Linked DNA regions of Homo sapiens: all the other regions are linked to region 3. The links come from fine-mapping of genetic effects on gene expression. A gene starts in region 3. Each other region holds a variant in brackets. All regions are shown on one strand. Distances are from middle to middle. Region 1 has its middle 18 kb from the start of SCIMP. Region 2 has its middle 110 kb from the start of NLRP1. Region 3 holds the start of RABEP1 (rabaptin, RAB GTPase binding effector protein 1). Region 4 overlaps RABEP1 (rabaptin, RAB GTPase binding effector protein 1). Region 5 overlaps RABEP1 (rabaptin, RAB GTPase binding effector protein 1).

Region 1 (4,319 bases), 30 kb before region 3:
TAATTCCAGCTACTTGGGAGGCCGAGGCAGGAGAATCGCTTGAACCCAGGAGGCAGAGCTTGCGGTGAGCCGAGATCGCGCCACTGTACTCCAGCCTGGGTGACAGAGTGAGATTCCATCTCAATTAAAAAAAAAATACAGTGGAATATTATTCAGCCTTAATAAGAGAGGAAGTTCTGGTACATGCGACACCAGGAATGAATCTGGAGGATGCAATACTAAAGTGAAGCAAGCCAGACATAAAAAATAAACATTGTGCCTGAGCGCGGTGGCTCACGCCTGTAATCCCAGCACTCTGGGAGGCCGAAGCAGGCAGATCACTTGAGGTCAGGAGTTTGAGACCAGCCTGGTCAACATGGTGAAACCCCGTCTCTACTAAAAATACAAAAATTAGCTGGGCATGGTGGTGCATGCCTGTAATCCCAGCTACTCAGGAGTCTGAGGCAGGAGAATCACTTGAACCCGGGAGGCAGAAGTTGCAGTGAGCTGAGATCGTGCCACTACACTCCAACCTGGGTGACAGAGCGAGATTCTGTCTTTAAAAAAAAAAAATTGTATGATTCCACTTATATTGAGGTACCTAAAATTGGCAAATTCATACAAAGAGAAAGTAGAATGATGGTTGCCAAGTGCTGGCGGAAGGGGAAAAAAATTCGTTGGTAAAATTGGAATCATATTTCACACATCAAAACTAATTCCAGATTTTAGTTAAAATTTAAATGTAAAAAAATAAAACAAATATTCTTAAATATTCATGTCATGAATAGTAAATATAATTTGTCTTCTTTATGATTTTCTTTTTTCTTTTTCTTTCTTTCTTTTTTTTTTTTTGAGAGAGTTTCGCTCTTGTTGCCTCAGGCTGGAGTGCAATGGCGTGATCTCAGCTGACTGTAACCTCTGCCTCCCGGGTTCAAGTGATTCTCCTGCCTCAGCCTCCTGAGTAGCTGGGATTACAGGCATGCGCCACCGCACCCGGCTAATTTTGTATTTTTAGTAGAGATGGGGTTTCTCCATGTTGGTCAGGCTGGTCTCGAACTCCCGACCTCAGGTGATCCACCCACATCGGCCTCCTAAAGTGCTAAGTGCTAGGATTACAGGTATGATGAGCCATTGCACCTGGCCTTTTTTTTTTTTTTTTTTTTGAGACGGAATCTTGCTGTGTCGCTCAGGCTGGAGTACAGTGGTGCAATCTCTGCCCACTGCAACCTCTGCCTCCCAGGTTCAAGCAATTCTCCTGCCTCTGCCTCCCAAATAGCTTGGATTACAGGAGCCCACCACCATGTCCGACTAATTTTTGTATTTTTGGTAGAGATGGAGTTTTGCCATGTTGGTCAGGTGGTCTCGAATTCCTGGCCTCAAGTAATCTGCCTGCCTCAGCCTCCCAAAGTGCTGGGATTAGAGGTGTGAGCCACTGCACCTGGCCTATGATTTTCTTAATAACATTTTCTTTTCTCTATCTTACTTTACTGTAAGAATACAGTATATAATACATATAACATACAAAATGTGTTAATCGATTGTTAATGTTATTGGTAAGGCTTCTGGTCAACAGCAGGCTATTAGCAGTTAAGCCTACTATTGACCAGAAGCCTTACCAATAACATGTGGGATGTCAACTGCACCAGGGGTTGGCACCCCTAACCCCTGTGTTGTTAAAGGGTCAACTATTCTTATTTTCCAACCTAATGTTGCCCTCCTCAGAGAGGCTTTGATTTTATCTAAAATAACATCCCTCAGTGAAAAATTACCAAGTATTCAATAAATCTGAAAAATACTTTCATGATGAAGAGAAAAATCAATTGCAACAGACCCAGGAATAACAGAGATGATGAGATTAGTGGACAAGAGCATGTTATGTAGAGACATAGAAGATATATAGATACTGATAGACTATGTATGTATATATGAGTGTATCTATCATCTATCTCTTCTAGAGATGAAAAGTACACTGAATGGAATTTGCAGCAGATTACACACTGCAGACCACAGATTAATGAATTTGACACAGTAATAGAAATTATCCGGGCGGGCCGTGGTGGCTCACACCTGTAATCCCAGCACTTTGGGAGGCCGAGGAAGGCGGATCACCTGAGGTCAGGAGTTCGAGACCAGCCTGGCCAACATAGAGAAACCCAGTCTTTACTAAAAATACAAAATTAGCCGGGCGTGGTGGTGCATGCCTGTAATCCCAGTTACTCAGGAGGCTGAGGCAGGAGAATCACTTGAACCTGGGAGGTGGAGGTTGCGGTGAGCCGAGATCACGCCACTGCA[C/T]TCCAGCCTGGGCAACAAGAGTGAAATTCCTTCTCAAAAAAAAAAAAAGAGAGAAAGAAAAAAGAAAAAGGAAAAGAAAGTAATCTGAAGTGAAATACAGAGAAAGACAACGGCTGAGAATAAATGACAGTGAGTTGGGGGATAACTTCCAGAAGCCTAATGTACGTGTAACTGGAGTTTCCAATAACCGAGACTCCATTTCCAAAAGGAGGAGGTACAGAAAAATATATTCAAAGAAATAAGGGAAAAATTTTTCCTAACTTGATGAGAATGATACACCCGTAGATAATACACCCACCCAGCAAGCTCAATGAACCCAAAGCACAAGAATCATGAAGAACACTAATCAAAGTGCATCTTTTTTTTTTTTTTTTTTTTTGAGACGGAGCCTCGCTCTGTCACCCAAGCTGGAGTGCGGTGGCGCGATCTCGGCTCACTGCAAGCTCCGCCTCCTGGGTTCACGCCATTCTCCTGCCTCAGCCTCCCGAGTAGCTGGGACTACATGTGCCCACCACAATGCCCGGCTAATTTTTTTGTATTTTTTTAGTAGAGACGGGGTTTCACCGTGTTAACCAGGATGGTCTCGATCTCCTGACCTCATGATCCGCCCGCCTCGGCCTCCCAAAGTGCTGGGATTACAGGCGTGAGCCACCACGCCCAGCCCAAGGTGCATCTTAATCGGGCTACTTACAAACAGCAATGAAGAGAAGATATAAAAGCAGCCAGAGAAAAAAACAAATATAAAAATGACAGCAATCTTCTTTTTGGGAGTTAATGTGATGCAGAAGATGCTAAAGCAACATTTAAAAAGTACTAAAAGGGCCGGATGCTGTGGTTCACACCTGTAATTCCAGCACTTTGGGAGGCCAAGTCCGGTGGACCATTTGAGGTCAGAGTTCGAGACCAGCCTGACCAACATGGTGAAATCCGTCTCTACTAAAAATACAAAAATTAGCTAGGTATGGTGGCACGTGCCTGAAATCCCAGCTACTGGGGAGGCTGAGGCAGGAGAATTGCTTGAACCTGGGAGGCGGAGGTTGCAGTGAGCTGAGATCATGCCACTGCACTCCAGCCTGGGTGACAGAGCAAGACTCTGTCAAAAAAAAATTAAGAAAGAAATAAAGAAAATCGAAATAAAGAAAATCAAAATAAATGAAAGTTCTATCATATTCATGGATCGTAAGACTCAATATTGGTAAGATTTCAATTCTCCACAAATTGATCTACAAAATCAACACAGTTCCAATCAAAACCTTGGTGGGCTTTATTTGGTAGAATGAGCTGATTCTAAAATTTATTTAGAAATGCAAAGTACCTAGAATAGCCAAAATAACTTTGAAGCAGAATAAGTTGGAGGACTTACTACTTGATTCAAGAATTCTCATAAAGCTACAGTAAAAAAAACAATGTGTTATTGTTGCAGGTAATACATAAATAGATCAGTGAAACAGAAAAGAAAGTCAAGCAATAGACCTGCACATATATAGTCAGTTGATTTTTTTTTTTTTTTGAGATGGAGTCTCGCTCTGTCACCCAGGCTGGAGTGCAATGGTGCGATCTCAGCTCACTGCAACCTCTGCCCCCTGGGTTCAAGCAATTCTCCTGCCTCAGCCTCCTGAGTAGCTAGGTTTACAGACGCATGCCACCACGCCCGGCTAATTTTTTGCATTTTCAGTAGAGACGGGGTTTCACCATGTTAGCCAGGATGGCCTCGATCTCCTGACCTTGTGATCCACTCGCCTCAGCCTCCCAAAGTGCTGGGATTACAGGCACGAGCCACCTCGCCTGGCCATGGGTGCGGTTTATTTCATGTCAATCATAACTCAATAAAGCTGTCAAAAAAAAAAAAAAGAAAGAAAGGTGAGCCTGGGGTTGGGAAGGGTGAGTGTCAGTCAGAACATGGAGAACTCAGAAGCCAGACGGAGGGGTGTAGACGATCCCCCGGTGATGGGCCAGCACCCGAGCATTTCAGAAAGGAGTGGGTTGTGGGAAGCCAACACTGTCAGCAGGATCTGGAATGGATTGGATGCCAAAGAAAGGAGTGTGGG
Region 2 (4,713 bases), 410 kb after region 3:
AGGCACATTTATTTATAAATCATACTATTACCAATCTGCAGAATATTAGTACATTCCTAAACTATGTTAATATTTAACACATAGTTTAATTTCTTATTTTTATATAAAAATATAAATGTTCTAATATTTTCCTCCCACACTATTTACTGGTTTGCTCACACCCCATTGATTTAATCCATTTTGCCCAGTCCAGAGACAGTTTTGTAGACAGACATGATATCTTGTGAAAAAGGGTGAAAAAATGTGTCATTTCACACCAAATCCCACTGTAGGAACCTCTGATGGGGTGGGCACAGTCTATCTCAGTGGGAAAATAAATCCTGATCTTCCACTTACAAGGTCAGGGAGGGAGAAGGGGAAGAATGAAATTTCAAGACCAGGCTCTATGTGGATGGAGGACTCCTGCAGAGGCCACAGTCATGCCATTTTTTGCCTCTTTGGCCTGAAAGGGCAAGCGCTGGGTCCTGACGGGGCTAGGACTGAATGCTTGGCATAATAAAGTGAGAGGAGGTGCACTGAATGGAGGGTGAATAATATTCCATTAGTATTAAGTAATTAATTAATTACATCCAATAATATCCCATCATATGTATTAACCACATTTTCTTTATCCGTTCATTGGATAAAGATGGACACTTGAGTTGCTTCTTTTTTTTTTTTGAGACCGAGTCTCGCTCTGTTGCCCAGGTTGGAGTGGAGTAGCGCATGGGAGTTAAAATGTGATGAAGCCCGGCGTGGTGCCTCACACCTGTAATCCCAGCACCCTGGGAGGCTGAGGCGGGCGGATCACCTGAGGTTAGGAGTTCAAGACCAGCCTGGCCAACATGGTGAAACCCCGTCTCTACTAAAAATACAAAGTTAGCCGGGTGTGGTGGCAGATGCCTGTAATTCCAGCTACTCTGGAGGCTGAGGCAGGAGAATCGCTTGAACCTGGGAGGTGGAGGTTGCAGTGAGCTGAGATCACTCCACTGCACCCCAGCCTGAGTCACACGAGTAAAATTCTGTCTCAAAAAAAAAAAAATTGTGATGAGATAGAGGCACTGGAGGTTAGGAGCTTGGGCGCTGGTGCCTGGCTGCCATAGTTAGTGTCCTAGCTCTGTGTCCTCGGGCAAGTTACTTCGCCTCTCTGTGCCCCATTCCCATCATCTGTTAAATGGGGTTAATAATTTCTACCTCACAGGGGGTTGTGAGGAGTGGATGGTCTAATACGCACAAAGCACTCTGAACAGCTTAATAAATGTTAGCTGTTACTTTTGAGACGAACGCCAGCCGGAATTTGAAGCTACAATGCAGAGTTGAAAGTAATCCCCAGACTTTGAGCCCCTGAGAACTCAGAGACATCTTAGGATTCAGTGCTTGGGCCAATCTTATTCCAATGTGAAAGGACAGGGTGACCTCAGCTGACCAGCCCAATTGCTGTGGTGACTGGGATTTGGTTCTCACCTCCCAGCCTGGGTTTTGTTTTCTAATATGATGAGGCCCCAATGCTGTCATCTCGAGAGCAGGAAGAGAGAGTTTTGCTCTTCTTGTTTAGTGCCAACCAGGCTCCCCCAACCATAGAAATCCCCAGAGGACTCTTCCATCAAAGTGAATATTCATAAAGTGCTTTAGAGTTGACAGAGTCCCTTTATATCCATTATCTTATTTGATGACCCCAATAATATTATGACCCTTCTATTTGCTGGGGCACTGAGGGGAGTGAGAGTCGGGGAGAGAGGTGGGAGGGGAAGGGAGGAGGGAGAAGAGAGGAAAGGAGAGGGGAAGGGAGGGGTAAAAGTAATGCTGAAATGTTGAGACTGGCTTTTATTTTTATTTTTCATTTTTTCAACAGTAGAGATGGGGTCTTGCTATGTTGGCCAGGGTAGTCTTGAACTCCTGGACTCGAGCAATTGTCTTGCCTCAGCCTCTAAAAATGCTGAGATTACAGGCCACCACACCCTGACAACTCTCTTATTTTGATTTTATTATATTTATTTTTGTTTTTAATAAGAACCTGGGTCTTTTTGACTCAAATATCCATGTGCTTCTGCTTTACCAGCTGGCCTTCAGGTGGGAGAAGCAGGCCCTCTGTGTGCCCAGCCTGGGTTCAGTCACTGACTCAGTGCCCAGCACAAGGTGGGTGGCTCCCCCAGGGGCCCTTGCTACCCTCACCATGAGCCACGCTGAGCTACAGATCTGATGCCTGGGTCTCCGCCAAGGGCTCGGGCTAACACGCCCTGTTTGGACTCAGCCAGGTGACCCATGATGGTAACAGCCGGCTTGCCGGCCTCGCCTTCCTTGCAAGAAGTTATGGAATAACATCAGAGCTTTTTGAGGCAG[G/T]TGTTAATCATGTCCCCATTTTACCGGTGAGGACGCTGAGACTTGGAGAAGCTCCCATCTGTGAGTAAGTGTTGGAGCCAGGTCTGTCTGACCTCGAAGTTGAACTTCCACTCTCCACTCTGAGAAGAAGCGTGCTTAGGGAGGCGCTGCTTGTAGAAAAGGATCCTGGAGAACTATTCATTTGTCATCACTCAGGCCAAGAGAGTAACAGAAGAAATGATCAATGAAAAACCCTCCAAAAGTTGTCATCGGCTTGGGTTTATCCTGCTTTAAATCATAACTTAAGCAGCCTGAAATGGTATTTCCCAAAGATGGGAATGAAATTCTGGTTATTCAAGGAAGAAGCCAAGGGCTGGGGGTTTGCAGGAGCAGTTTCCAGACTCCCAGGAGTGCAGGTAAGCTCTGAAGAGGCGGAAGGGAGGAAGGGAAGAGCAGGGGAGGAGGAGGGGCTGGAGCCCAACGAGAGAGGGAGGGGCCTGTCTAAGCCCATACTGCACTGGGGACAGCTCTTCCCCTGGGGCAACGACAGGCTCTTACCATCAGCCTTTTCCCAAGATGCCCCGGGGCACAGTTAAGTGCTTTAAGTGGCAGCTCCGCAAAAGGCCATCTCCCGCCAAGACTATAAAATGGAAAAATGGTGATGCTATATTCACGGCAAAGAATCAAGCGAGCAGAGCCTTAACAAGGAATTTATAAATCAGTTACTAGGAACATTAAAATGCCTCTTGCTGCACTTAATCTCCAGCTTCCTTTCTTCTTCCAAATACCTAACACATCAGTCTTTTTTACTGGCTCTGGTGGACCCTTCAAGGAAGTCTGTTCCTTTTTCAGAATAAATATATGTGTATTCTCTTGTCTGACTCAACTCGACTGTAAAACAAATAATGATACGTGCTTACTCTGGTTCTTCAGATAAATATGAGAGGAGGCAGTTTTGTCTTTCTTTGGTCTGGGACATCCCTGGGAGCAGGAATCATGGCTGTGCCAAGCACAGTTTCTGTAGCTGCATCCCATGCGATCCTGTAAGTAGGCACACTTGGAATGTAACGCCAGCAACGCGTGGTCTAGACATAGTCAAGCTTGGCCCAATAAAAACAGGAGAACCAAACTGCACTCCAAGGCATTCCCCAAGACTCTTGTATAATAAGAACAGCCAACGCTTCCATGAGCCTACCTTAGGCCAACTGCTGTCCTAAGCACATTGCGTTTATCAACTCCATTTATCTTCACAATAACCCTAGTACTGTTATGTTCTCCATATTATAGATGAGGAAACAGAGGCACAGAGATATTAACTTTCCCACTTTCATACAACCAGTGACTGGGGGAGTTGGCCTGTGGACCCAGGCAGCCTGACCCAGCAACAGGGCTCATAAACTTTGTGCTATATGGCTGTAACAAGAAGGCTAGTTTTACCATTTACCCTATGATATGATCAGGCTTTGTGTCCCCACCCAAATCTCATCTTGAACTACAATCCCCACAATTCCCATAATCCCCATGTGTCAAGGGAGAGACCAGGTGGAGGTAATTGGATCATGGGCGTGGTTTCCCCTGTGCTGTTCTCACGATAGTGAATTCTCAAGAGATCGGATGGTTTTATAAGGGGCTCTTCCCCCTTTGCTTGGCATTTCTCCTCCCTGCTGTCTTATGAAGAAGGTACCTTGCTTCCCCTTCACCTTCTGCCATAATTGTAAGTTTTCTGAGGCCTCCCCAGCTATGATTGTAAGTTTCCTGAGGCCTCCCCAGACATGATGAGCTGTGAGTCAACCAAACCTCTTTCCTTTATCAATTACCCGGTCTCAGGCAGTTCTTTATAGGAGTATAAAAACAGACGAATATACCCTCGTTCTGGGAGGATTCAGGGACCCAGGCTGCAATGAGAGGGCAGAGCTGCTGGGAGCCACCAATTTGGTTATTCCCAGGATGTCTGTTTGCTGGGCTGGTATGTTGTGGGTTGTTTTTGTAATCTCCACCTTAAAGCACATTTGGTCAAGTCTTATGAGAGGCTTCCGCTGGAGCTGTTTAAGTGGTGGCAGCTGAGGCAGGCCCCTGTCACTCAGGGAAGGCAGCCCTGTGAAGGACGCCTGGGTCTGGAGATCTGCAAGGGAGAGACTTTCTCCTGGAGAACTTTGGGGAAGCTTGGCTCAGTAAAGAGGAGGCAAGGTGGCCTGAACACAGACACTGGGCTGAGGTACATCTCTAAGATGACTGTGTGTGACCAGGAAGTGCTTCTGATCCTGGATACCTGGTGATATTCCAGCTGGTGAATGTAGCATCCCAGCCTGAATTTCAGCATTTGGGTCCTCCTTGAGAGATTCTGAGAATCTCCTTGCCAATATCTGTTTCTGGTCCTTGCAGACATCCAGACACTGCTGGACTTAGTCACTCACT
Region 3 (4,597 bases):
GGGAGGTGGAGGTTGCAGTGAGCTGAGATGGTGCCACTGCCCTCCAGCCTGGGCAATAGAGTGAGAGACTCCGTCTCCAAAAATTAAATAAATAATAAAATAAAATAAAATTACAAACTACTCCAATTAACCGCTAACCTTAATACAGTCTATCCTTCTACTTGGACAAATCTACCTGTTTAAGACCTGGAAGACCAGGTTTAAATTTAGAATTCCTGGGCTCCTGGGAGTTATGCCCATGAATGAGGTGGCGAAAGCAGCACAGGCCCTGGCCCAACTATTGTCTCTTGGCTCACTTGCCTTCTTTTCTCACCTCTGTCCTGCACCATGAGGGATCTGTGGACATAGGAGCTCAAACACCCAAGTGTCGTGTCACCCCCTTAAAATAAAACAAAGCTGCCCTTTAGCCTCCCTTTTTTTCAGTGAGAAATAATCATTTTAATAAAAGTATACCTTATTTAAAACAAATGATTTAAAGAAAGTAGAAACTGATTCTAATTAGTGGATTTTCTGATTATTATTATTATTATTTGAGATGGAGTCTCGATCTGTCGCCCAGGCTGGCAGTGGTGCGATCTTGGCTCACTGCAACCTCCGCCTTCTGGGTTCAAGCAATTCTCTGCCTCAGCCTCCCGAGTAGCTGGGAGTACAGGCGCCTGCCACCACACCCGACTAATTTTTTGTATTTTTAGTAGAGATGGGGTTTCACCATCTTGGAGAGGCTGATCTTGAACTCCTGACCTCGTGATCCACCTGCCTCAGTCTCCCAAAGTGCTGGGATTACAGGCGTGAGCCACTGTGCCCGGCCTATTATTATTTTTTTATTATACTTTAAATTCTTGGATACATGTGCTAAACGTGCAGGTTTGTTACATAGGTATACATGTGCCATGGTGGTTTGCTGCATCTATCAACCCGTCATCTAGGTTTTAAGCCCCGCATGCATTAGGTATTTGTCCTAATGCTCTCCCTCCCCTTCCCCCCACCCCCCACAGGCCCCGGTGTGTGATGTTCCCCTCCCTGTGTCCATGTGTTCTCATTATTCAATTCCCACTTATGAGTGAGAACATGAGGTGTTTGGTTTTCTTTTCCTGTGTTAGTTTGCTGAGAATGATGGTTTCCAGCTTCATGCATGTCCCTGCAAAGGACATGAACTCATTCTTTATGCTTTCACTTTAGCTTCTTTTAGGGATGTCTAGACTCTGCCATAGAGAGAATGGATCTGGGAAAGAGACCACAGCTTCAGCCATCTGGAAAGGGAATTCTGGGGCCACAAGTATTCAGAACTTGGTCCTGAAGTGCCAAACCCTGTGGACTCCCTCATCCTGGGGTGGGATTGCTGGGTCTTAAAATGTACATAATTCCTGATGCTCCTCTCTGATTTCAAAATAGCTTTTTAGGCCGGGCGCGGTGGCTCACGCCTGTAATCCCAGCACTTTGGGAGGCTGAGGCAGGCGGATCACGAGGTCAAGGGTTTGAGACCAGCCTGACCAACATAGTGAAACCCCGTCTCTACTAAAAATACAAAAATTAGCCGGGTGTGGTGGCGTGCGCCTGTTGTCCCAGCTAGTCGGGAGGCTGAGGCAGGAGAATTGCTTGAACCCGGGAGGCAGAGGTTGCAGTGAGCCGAGATCGCACCATGGCACTCCAGCCTGGGTGTCAGAGTGAGACTCTATCTCCAAAAAAAAAAAAAAAGCTTTTTAAACTACCTCCTTGGCATGGGGCACTCCAGGTGTCGAAATCAGACGGGGAGTGGTGATTAGAGGGGAGTTCCTAAAGTATAGGGCCCAGGGGCCCAAGTATAAGGGCCACACTTTGTGTATATGATTTCTCCTTTCCTGCCATGAGTGCAGGGTCTGTACCTGGCTGTATCTCCAGCATCTATCACGACTGAAAACCCAAACGTATTTGCTGAATGGATAGTATACTGGCCTCTGCACCAGAAGACCTGGGGTCCAGGCCCAGTACTGTCGGAAACAGTTCTTCATACTTTATTACCTCGTTTAAACTTTTCTTAGCCATTATATTGATAAAAATTCCAAGAGGTGAAGTGACTCTCCCAAGGTCGCAAAGCTAGAAGAGGTAGAGGCTGGAACTGCACCCCGCCATCGGTCCTCCTCTCTTACTCATTTTTTTTTTTCCCCTCACTGTGCTGGGGTGGAGAACCGGGACCGGCACCTTCGAGAGGCCAGGCCTCTGCTGCAGCCCCTCTTCTCCAGCTCCGCTCGGCACTCAGCCTCCCCGCGCCGCTGGGTCAGGCGCCCAGCTCCGCCGAAACCCTCCCCTCCCGCCGCGCTCCCTCCGCGCTCCCTCCGCGCTCCCTCCGCGCTCCCTCCGCGCTCCCTCCGCGCTCCCTCCGCGCTCCCTCCGCGCTCCCTCCGCGCTCCCTCCGCGCTCCCGAGGCCCCGCCCCTCCCCTCGGGCCAACGTCACGTGCCGCCCCATCCCCCTGCGCCTGCGCACTGCTTATTTCCCGCTGTCAGGATGAGGAGGCGGAGGTCGGCGGTCGGGTCCGTCTCTGCCCGCGGCTGTGGCGGCGCCGGCGGATCCAGCCTTAGCGGTTTCTCTCTGGGCGGCGGCGGCGGCGGCTCGGTTGACGCCTCCTCCGCCAGCTGAGCCCGCGGGAGCCCAGGACGCCGCTTCCCCGCCCATCCCCGCTCCCCGAGGCCGGCCGCCTGGTCATGGCGCAGCCGGGCCCGGCTTCCCAGCCTGACGGTGAGGCGCCCACCATGGCAGGCGCGGCGGGCGCGGCCTGCCCGGCGTCGGCGTCGCGGGAGGATTTCGGGGCGGGCAGGCGGCGGCAAGGGCGCGCGCAGGCCCCGGGGGTGACCCCGCCGGGCGGAGGCGGGGGCGCGCGGGCTGCGGCGCGCGAGGGCGGCGCGGGCGCCCCGGCTGCCGTCGCTGGGGAGGGGGCGGGAGGCGCGGGTGCAGCGCTTGCGGGAGGGCAGAGGGAAGGGCGTGGGGAGGCTGCTGGGTAGCGTGGGGTAGTGTGGGGAGGGAGCGGTTCTGGGTAGCGGGGGACCGGCACGTGGGTTCTGCCCGTGGGGGAGGATGGAAATCGGGAACATGTGCTATATTCGTTAAAGAAAAAAAATCTTAGCTTAGGTAGTGTACCCTCCCTGCCGCCCCAATCCTTGCTATAGAACTCTTTGCACCCAGTTATGTGACCTGAAAGTAGTTGTGTACAGTAACTGGATTTAGTAGCATTCCCTGAATGGCAGTGTGGCTTAATGGTTAAGTGTTGGGGCCTGGGAGTCTAGAGGACCTGTATTCTTAACCAGCAAGCTCTGGGCTCATTTCTTAGCCTCGTTGAGCCTCAGTATTCTCACCCACGAATTAACCAAGAGGTTAATTCATGCCTTTATATTTTATCTATAAAAATAGCAACACGAATGTGTATATACAATAATAGTATTATGGAGGTATTAGGAATAATGAGAATAGTGTTTGAGAATGCTGAGGCCTACTTGCACTACTTGAAGATATTTGCTTGTGGAACTAAAAAAAAAAAAGTGAAGTCGAAGAAATGTGTCATTTATATTCTTGGAAGGAAAAAAGGGCCCCATCCTAAATAATCAAAGTTGGTTGTCAGAGCCCTTCGTGACCTTCTGGGAAATTGGACTAAGCTGTGCTTCACAGATTGACTACATGGTTCCAGGTTTTACCACCTAGAATAGATGTTTGGAAATAGTGTGCTTGGGCTTTTCCAAGGTCCCACTGTATCTAGTTGTGAAAGTACTTTCTGGTGTATTTCTATAATCAGCGTGTGTGCTTAGCATCTTTAAGTGTGAGTAGAGTAGAATGTTGGGAAAAGGGGCTTGGTACGGAGTAGGTACTTTAAAACTTGGCTTTCCTTGGGGTTGTCTCAAAATAACCTTTCGTGAAACCCTTACTTTTTATTTTTGCCTTTGGGGAACTTGAAACCATGTTATCAGATTTTAAGGTTCTGGCTGCTCTCTGGGAAATGTGCTTCAGAGCCTGTTAGCCTGTAGTTTTGGGTGTTGTTGCTTGCCTAAGGGGAGATGTCCAGTAAGCATTTAGACTTTTATAAGAACCTGCTTTGCTGTTTCTGTTCCAGGAGAAGGGAAGGGAAGCATTTTTGGTGGGCTGTCAGAGAGAGGAAACTGGGATGTCTTCAGGCTGCATTTTAATGATCACCTTTTGCATTTGGTGTCAGGCAAGAAAACTTTGTTCTTCCACAATCCCACTTTGTTACTGCACACAGAGGCAAGATACAGAGAGCTTGTGGTTCTGAACAGGAGTGGTAGGTATGCATAGCTGGCTGCTGCCTTCTCTTGAGTTGCATGGAAAGAAACGTCTAGGGCAGCTCAGGTGACATGACCGTCTGGAATCAAAATTCCCTGCCTCTTTGAAGATATGAAATGGTCTTCCTTGTAAATAGGCAGAAGTGACTAAGCACTTGAACGAGGCTAGGGAAAACTAGCTTTAGGAAATCTTGTATTCTTGGTATTTTAGTTCAGGTTTCTTTCCTATTTCTCAAATCTTGTGACTCTAGGATGAGATTTAGTTTGCATAGATTGCAATTTTTATTTTAAATTAATGTAGGTAGCCATGGCTACTTTTTACAGTAGGAGAGA
Region 4 (4,000 bases), 90 kb after region 3:
TCACTTAAAATGAATGTGTGTCAGTGACACTGGAGAACTGTTGAAATTAAGGTTGAGGTCCTATGAACTCCAGTACATGACCATTTTGTTGAAATTACCATAAAGAAGAGAAACTCACCACGTTAGTGCATGCTTGCCCTTGTTCTTAGTCTTTCTGTGTATGTTTGTAGGTATATGATGTGTGTGTGTACGTATGTCTTGGTTTGTGTTTTTTGCTGGACTGTTTGGAGTTATTGTAGACATGACAGTCGTAAGTATTTTAGTATGTATTTCCTAAAACAAAGAGTTGTTCTGCATCGCTACAGTACTGTTATTACATCCTTAAAATTTAACCAGTTGTCCCAGTAAGTCCTTGATTACTTTTTAGTGGTGGTTTTCCTTTTTATATTTTCTATATTTTGATCCAGGAACCAATCAGTGATCACATATTTCATCTTGTTGCCATGTCGCTTTAGTCACTTTTCATCTAGAACAGTCTCCCACTCTCTTTTTATTTTTAAGAATCCGGCCAATTGCTTTGTTTCAGGCCATCTGTCTTGTAGAATTCATTTGTCTGATTATCTCCTTGTGATTTGATTCAGGTTAGACATCTTGGCAAGAATACTGCACAGATGAAATGGTTCAATGGGAGGTTCATAACATAATGAGGCACGTTAATGATGGGTGCTTCCATTACTGGGGATGTTAAATTTGATCACTCGGTTAAGGTGGGGACAAAATAGTTTCAGAATGACTATATCAATATTACTACCAACAGCAAATCTACTAAGTAAAGGCCAACATTTCTTTGTAGTTCTGCCCTTAGACTGTATCTCAGATAAGGGTTTACAGTTTAAGTACTGTGTTCAAATGTTAGTTTTTCTCTCTGTGGTTGTATTAGGAATTTGATATATAGTTAGCTCCATTTGTTTCTCTTTTTTTTTTTTTGTTTTTGAGACGGAGTCTTGCTCTGTCGCCCAGGTTGGAGTGCAGTGGCGCGATCTCGGCTCACTGCAAGCTCCGCCTCCCGGGCTCACGCCATTCTCCTGCCTCAGCCTCTGGAGTAGCTGGGACTACATGCGCCCGCCACCACGCCTGGAGAATTTTTTGTTTTTTCAGTGGAGACGGGGTTTCACCGTGTTAGCCAGGATGGTCTCGATCTCCTGACCTCGTGATCCACCCGCCTCGGCCTCCCAAAGTGCTGGGATTACAGGCGTGAGCCACTGCGCCTGGGCTGTTTCTCTTTATATTACATTTTCAGATTTGATTTTTCTTTCTTGATTTATATTTTGAATATGTAACATGGTTCATAATCAAAAGTATAAAAATAAATACTCAGCTCCATTTCCATTCCCTGTCCTTTTCACCCCATTTCCACTCACTCTTATACGTAATTATTTTAATTTATTTTTGGCTTATCCTTCTGTTTTTCTCTTTACAAAAACAAGCAAATATATACATATTCTTTTTTCCCTTCTTTCATATCCAGAAGGTGGTGGGATACTAAGATTTTGTTGTAAATGGGTGACAGTGATCATAAAGCACAGTGGATTCTAGTCTGAAGACAATAAGAGCCAGTGGGCTTTAGCCAGAGCATATGCATGGCCGTGACTGCCTGTCT[T/C]AGGCCTGTTTGTCCTTCAGAATGCAGCTCAGTCATCGCCTCCTCTGGGAAGTGTTCTTTAACCCTCTTCCCAATTTCCTGCCCCAAATTAGGTACCCCTTTGTCCTTTTATCACTGCAGTACCCAATCTCTGTCATAGCAGTTTATGGTATTGTAGAGTAGTTTTTGGTTTACTTGTCTTTCTCCTCTATTGGACCATGAGCTTCTCCAGGGCAAAGTCTTTGTCTTTTATCTCTGTATTTCCTGTGGGCAGCAAAACACGTGGCATAGAGTAGTAGCTGCACAATAAACATCGTATGAGAGCATCATCTACATGTATGTGTGCCCTTAAGGTAAGTGACTTTAGTACTACAGATTAGCAGGAGTCACGTGCTTTTGTAGAGCTTTATCTGATACTCGGATTTGGTGGATAACTTTTATATTGATACAAATAATATGAAATACCTAAAATTGTTTTACACATCAACAAGCAGAAGTGGGAGTGTGTCCCATTTTAAGAATAAGCTTCTCTGGCTGGGTGCGGTGGCTCACGCCTGTAATCCCAGTACTTTGGGAGGCTGAGGTGGGCGGATCACGAGGTCAGGAGATTGAGACCAGCCTGGCCAACATAGTGAAACCCTGCCTCTACTAAAAATACAAAAAAATGAGCTGGGCGTGGTGGTGCGTGCCTGTAGTCCCAGCTACTTGGGAGGCTGAGGCAGGAGAATCACTTGAACCGGGACTCGGGAGGTGGAGGTTGCAGTGAGCCGAGATCACACCACTGCATTCCAGCCTGGGCTACAGAGCGAGACTGTCTCAAAAGAAAAAAAAGAATAAGCTTCTCAAGTGCTCTGTGATTCCTGAGCTTAGATGCTCTTGATGACTTCCAGTATCTGGGCCTGCTGGGCCATTCACAGTGATTCCGAGCCTAAACAGAGGTATACATAATAGGAAATGAAGACACTACTCTGTTTCTCCCTCCTTTCTGTCCAGTGCACGCCATGGGGAAATGGGAGTTGTCTTAGAGTACATGCTCTGTCTGATATAGGTCTTGATGGTGTCAGCCACTTCCATTGAACTAGAGATCCTGGTCCTTCTGTAGTACAGGGATATGGAGGGAAAATATTAATTTTTTTTTTTTTTTGAGATGGAGTCTTGCTCTGTGGCCCAGGATGGGCGCAACGGTGCAATCTCGGCTCACTGCAACCTCCGCCTCCTGGGTTCAAGCGATTCTCCGGCCTCAGCCTCCCTCCCTAGTTGCTGGGATTACAGGCACCCCGCTGTACCCAGCTAACTTTCTGCATTTTAGTAGAGACAGGGTTTCACTGTTTTGCCCAGGCTGGTCTCAAACTCCTGAGCTCAGGCAATCCACCCACCTCAGCCTCCCAAAGTGTTGGGATTACAGGCGTGAGCCACCACACCCAACCAAAAGATAGAATTTTTAAGCGGTTTGTAGAAACAGTGGAGAATGAGCCTCAGATACTTGCTTCATTGCCTGTCCCTTGTTGAATATATGCTGTAAACCAGAAAATCTCTGTGCAGCTTTTTCTAAGTCTAGCAGAACTTCACCATACCCCGTCCATCCTCAGCACTCCTTTAGTTTGGACTTGTTTTTCTCTGGTGTAGCTATCACCAGACCGGATCTACCTTTCTGGCTGTGATTAGTATCTACTTCTATTTTAGGCGGTGCTGATGCAGTCACGGGAACAGGTTTCAGAAGAGCTGGTGAGGTTACAGAAAGATAATGACAGTCTCCAGGGAAAGCACAGCCTGCATGTGTCATTACAGCAAGCAGAAGACTTCATCCTCCCAGACACTACAGAGGTAACTTACTTTCCACATGATCAAAAATGTCAACAAGTACGTTTTCTGAAATGGCCGTATGTTCTTTATGTAAACAGTTTTATTCAGATATAATTCACGTGCCAATTCAACCATTTAAAATGTACCATTCAGTGGTTTTTGCTGTACTCACAGATGTGTGCAACCATCATCACAATCAATTTTAGAACATTTTCATCACCTCAAGTAGTAACTCCCTGTGACCCGACTACACCAGCTAAACACACACACACACACACACACACACACACACACACACACACACGAAAAAGTAACACTTCGCCCTTTAGCTACCATCCTTATTCCCCCTCCTCCCCTAGCCTTAAGCAACTACTAACCTTTCTGCCTCTATAGATTTCCCTATTCTGGACTTTCCTATGAATAGAATCATACGATATGTGGTCTTTTGTGTCCATGTTCTTTCACGTAGCCTTAATGTTTTGAAGATCTATGTTATTTTTGTCGGCCCAGATTGAGAGTGTGCCAGAAATTAAATGTTTGAAGGGGTTACCATGCTGGCTGCTTATGACGTTTGTTTTTGTATCTAGTACTTGAAAAGTTATAACACACTCACCATCA
Region 5 (4,000 bases), 97 kb after region 3:
CTGGTAGATGTTTAGTAAATGTTTGAATGAATGAATAAGTGAGTAAGTAAATAAATGTTATCCTCTTAGTTCACACTTGCTACTGAGTGTGAACTTGCTACTCAGTTTTGTCTTCATTTCCTAACTCCTCCCAAATTTCTGCAAGTAATAGTAGAGGATTCTAAGGTATTATTTCTATTGAATGGCATATTGTAAGTCACTTAATCTTTTTATTTTTCTGCTTATGAAACAGTTTTGAGGGAAGAGTATGTGGCTTACAAGATACGACTTGGCCAGAAATGTCTTTTCTATAACATACTGAATGTTAACCTGACATGGCACCTGCCCTGAAGCTCTAAGTGGCTTAATGGTCAAAGTCTTAATTTTTGAACCATTAAAACAACATCTGAGATTCTGGTTACAGAAAATCTTTAGCTTCTTTATTTCCTTTCACTCTCACAAACCCAATAATCATTTGTTTCTTGAATCCAGGCACTGCGGGAGTTGGTATTAAAATACCGTGAGGACATCATTAATGTGCGGACAGCAGCAGACCACGTAGAAGAAAAGCTGAAGGCTGAGATACTTTTCCTAAAAGAGCAGATCCAAGCAGAACAGTGTTTAAAAGAAAATCTTGAAGAAACTCTGCAACTAGAAATAGAAAACTGCAAGGAGGAAATAGGTGAAGATAAAAGTGATGTAGTTTAGAATTAGAGTCACTAAATAAAACTTTAGTAAAAGAAGCAATACATGGCCATGGAGTCTGGAACACAGAAAAGCTTAGGAAAGAATTTAGTAAGGACTCAGTCCATTTTTTGTAGATATTCTGATATATTCAGATTCTGAATATATATTCTGATATAGTCAAATAATCAGAAATTCTGGTTATTTAAAAAATTTTTTTTTTTTTTTTTTTTTTTGAGACGGAGTTTCATTCTTGTTGCCCAGGCTGGAGTGCAATGGCGCGATCTTGGCTCACCGCAACCTCTGCCTCCCAGGTTCAGGCAATTCTGCTGCCTCAGCCTCCCGAGTAGCTGGGATTACAGGCATGTGTGCCAGCACACCCAGCTAATTTTGTATTTTTAGTAGAGACGGGTTTCTCCATGTTGGTCAAGCTGGTCTCGAACTCCTGACCTCAGGTGATCTGCCTGCCTCGGCCTTGCAAATGCTGGGATTACAGTTGTAAGCCAACGCGCCTGGCCGAAAACTCGTCTTTTTAGGAGTTCTGTGGCCTCTTTGGCAATTATTCATAGATAGGATTCTCAGTACTTGAACCCAGAACCAGGGGAACGTGATTCAATGGGTGGCATTTCCCTGCAGAGATGTGATACATGATCTAGAGGTAGTTTATGACACAGTGTCCATTTGCATGGATCCTGCTTTTCCCTGAGCCTAAATATGCTGATTGCTTGGTGGTAATTTTGAGACAGCCCCCGGAACCCATGTTCAGCATACATTTGAATCCTTTGGGGGGTGCTCTAAAATTTTAAAGAAAAAAATGTTCATGCACAATAATAGATGAATGCTAATACATCTCATTTTTTTCCTTCTAGCTTCTATTTCTAGCCTAAAAGCTGAATTAGAAAGAATAAAAGTGGAAAAAGGACAGGTAAGTCGTGAGTTTCAAATTAATTCTATCAGCAACCAGTGGTTATTTACTGACTCCTACTATGCTGCACCCAACGAATAAAAAATAGTTAAGGCATGGGCCCTGCCTTAAGGAACTTTTGTCTTGTGGGAAGAAAACCACGGGGTAAGGGTGTGCTGGTGATTTATTGAGAGTGCCCTGTGTGTCAGGCTACGTTAAACTGGAGGAGGTAAGGCTAAGATGTGACTGTGGCCTGGAGTTTCCAGTGTAGTGAGAAGATAGGCAAGGCATGGTCATAACATGTTATATGCTTAGAGGTACAGTAGAAATATGTATAAAAAACATTACAAACAAGAGATGACATTTTCTAGCTGGCTTAGTCCTCTTAGACATCATTAGTTCCTTTCATAGTAACCCCATTCAACTTCCTGACCTCACTGTTCCTTGATTTAGAGATTTTCACCTCCACCCTGCTCTCCCCT[T/C]CCACACACTGGGCTGCATTTTGCCCAACTGTGACATCTCACTGCAGCCTTAAGTTCCTTGACCACAATCTGCCATCCTTCCAGCTCTTCCATCGGAGTACCTCATTCAGACCTCCAGTTCTCTGAACTTCCCCTTTCATTCTGGTTTCAGCAGCTTCATGGCTTGCTTTCTTTCCCCTAGGTTGCATCTTACTGGCCTGCCTCTTCCCTTCATCTCCCACCACACCTGTCCCTATGGTCTTTGACTCCTTGTCCTGCTGCTGCCCTCACCTGACCACTGCCCAACCTTGGACTAGTCTTGCTGTCCCCAGCTGCTGATGCCACGAGACTTGGTGACACTGCATGCTCAAGCTGCCAGATGGGCCTCCAGTGTTCCTCATGCAGCCTTTCATGTGTCCTAAGTTGCGTCTCTTCCATTCCTCACAGTGGCAGTTTCAGAGTCACCTCACCTCAGCCCCCTCACTCTCAGCAGATGCTGGCCTCACTCCTCAGGCATCAGGCAGGGCCACCTTCAGCTACTGGGCTCCTCAATTACAGGTTTTCCTTTTATTCCCAGTCTTTTCTTTTTCTTCAGAGAATATCATGACCTGCTTCTGACCACAGTGTCATTGCATAGGTGCTTTGACTGAGTATCTCCGACTTTTCCAGATGTCCCCGCGCAGTGCCGGGCCTTGAACTTCTGCCTCTTGACTGATCTTTTCCATTATGCATGAACAGGCTCAGGTGTCTCATATTCAGAAGGAAAAAGTCTGTCTTTGGATTGCACTCCTCTCCCGAGCTACCACTCTTTCTTCCTCCCTCTGTTGCCACAGTCTTGATCATCATCACTGCCTGACTTCCCAGGCATCCCTCCACCTGCTGCAGTCTGCCTCCTGCCTCCACTTTGCTACTGATATTGCACCAGCAGAAATTACCAGCGCTCGAAATAACATCTCATCCTTTCCATTCTAGCTGCCACTCTTTGAGTTCAGACTTCACTCTCACCTGGCTTATTGTAACAGCCTAACTTTCCCTGCCTCCAAAATTTGTCCCTAAATCATCTCCATATTGAAATCAAGGTGATATTTAAACATTAGAAACTTGTTCGCGTCCCAGTCTAGTGGAAAGCCCTCCCGTAGTTCCCTTTATTTTACAGGATCAAGTCCATATCCTTAGCCCAGCCAGAGCTCTCCTGCCTCACACCTCTCTGCCTCAGTGCCTGTGGCTCCCAACGTGCTGTGCTGTAGGCCAGCCGAACATGCCACTGTTGCTGCATGTGTTTTTAGTGCGTGCCATCCATTCCCTCTTATTGGAGTATCTCTCCATCTTCTCCCCTTGTCACCCTTGTCTTTGCCCTGTAAAAATGTAGGAGTCAAATGTCATCTCCTCTAGGAAGTCCTTTGTAACTTTTCTGGCAGAATTAAATGCTTCTTTCTTCATCCTTTACATGTCTGTTTACCCTGATTTCTCCATTTTGAGGCCTTAGAATATAGTAGGCACCTAATAATGGTTAATGAAAGAATAGTTCAGGAAGAATACAGAGGGGATCCACAGAGCTGAAAGGGTGAGAGGAGTATTCCCAGTGTAGCCCGAGTGTCTTGGTGTAATTCTCCAGGCTCTAGGCTCTTTTAGGTAGTGCACTGGGGCCCAGAGGGAGTTTCTGTGAGTTTCAGCTTTTTCCTTTTTCACAGTTGGAGTCCACATTAAGAGAGAAGTCTCAACAGCTTGAGAGTCTTCAGGAAATAAAGATCAGTTTGGAAGAGCAGTTAAAGAAAGAGACTGCTGCTAAGGTAGTGTTTTCATTAGTCATTTAATTTTAAAAAGCAGGGCTAAGAATGCAGGATCACATCTTGCTTGTTGAAAAAAAAATATTGGTGCTTTGAAGTGTCACCTTTTAAAAAGTTGGCAAAACTGACAGCTTGTGAAAAGAAAAAACTTAAACGAATTGATCTATTCCAGCTGGGTTAAATCT

What was found. PIP is the estimated chance that this variant, and not a neighbour inherited with it, causes the effect.
Region 1: its variant is the best candidate, but not a certain one, in a credible set for the expression of RABEP1 in non-classical monocytes (Schmiedel 2018, PIP 0.62).
Region 2: its variant is the best candidate, but not a certain one, in a credible set for the expression of RABEP1 in tibial nerve (GTEx, PIP 0.82).
Region 4: its variant is the best candidate, but not a certain one, in a credible set for the expression of RABEP1 in vagina (GTEx, PIP 0.89).
Region 5: its variant is the best candidate, but not a certain one, in a credible set for the expression of RABEP1 in esophagus muscle (GTEx, PIP 0.58).

What each region holds. Positions count from the first base shown.
Region 1 is chr17:5,250,353-5,254,671 of GRCh38, forward strand. No RefSeq gene overlaps it. Among named protein-coding and RNA genes, the nearest start is that of SCIMP, 18 kb to the left of the region's middle. RefSeq lists an enhancer at 4,166-4,319. The variant C/T (reference allele first, on the strand shown) is at 2,272.
Region 2 is chr17:5,691,848-5,696,560 of GRCh38, forward strand. No RefSeq gene overlaps it. Among named protein-coding and RNA genes, the nearest start is that of NLRP1, 110 kb to the left of the region's middle. The variant G/T (reference allele first, on the strand shown) is at 2,320.
Region 3 is chr17:5,279,807-5,284,403 of GRCh38, forward strand. It overlaps RABEP1 (rabaptin, RAB GTPase binding effector protein 1), which reads left to right and starts at 2,478. Exons shown (of 18, transcript NM_004703.6): 1 at 2,478-2,714. The coding sequence starts at 2,681. RefSeq lists a silencer at 2,198-2,917.
Region 4 is chr17:5,370,052-5,374,051 of GRCh38, forward strand. It overlaps RABEP1 (rabaptin, RAB GTPase binding effector protein 1), which reads left to right. Exons shown (of 18, transcript NM_004703.6): 13 at 3,263-3,403. Among named protein-coding and RNA genes, the nearest start is that of NUP88, 48 kb to the right of the region's middle. The variant T/C (reference allele first, on the strand shown) is at 1,601.
Region 5 is chr17:5,376,645-5,380,644 of GRCh38, forward strand. It overlaps RABEP1 (rabaptin, RAB GTPase binding effector protein 1), which reads left to right. Exons shown (of 18, transcript NM_004703.6): 14 at 472-661; 15 at 1,533-1,588; 16 at 3,720-3,818. Among named protein-coding and RNA genes, the nearest start is that of NUP88, 41 kb to the right of the region's middle. The variant T/C (reference allele first, on the strand shown) is at 2,050.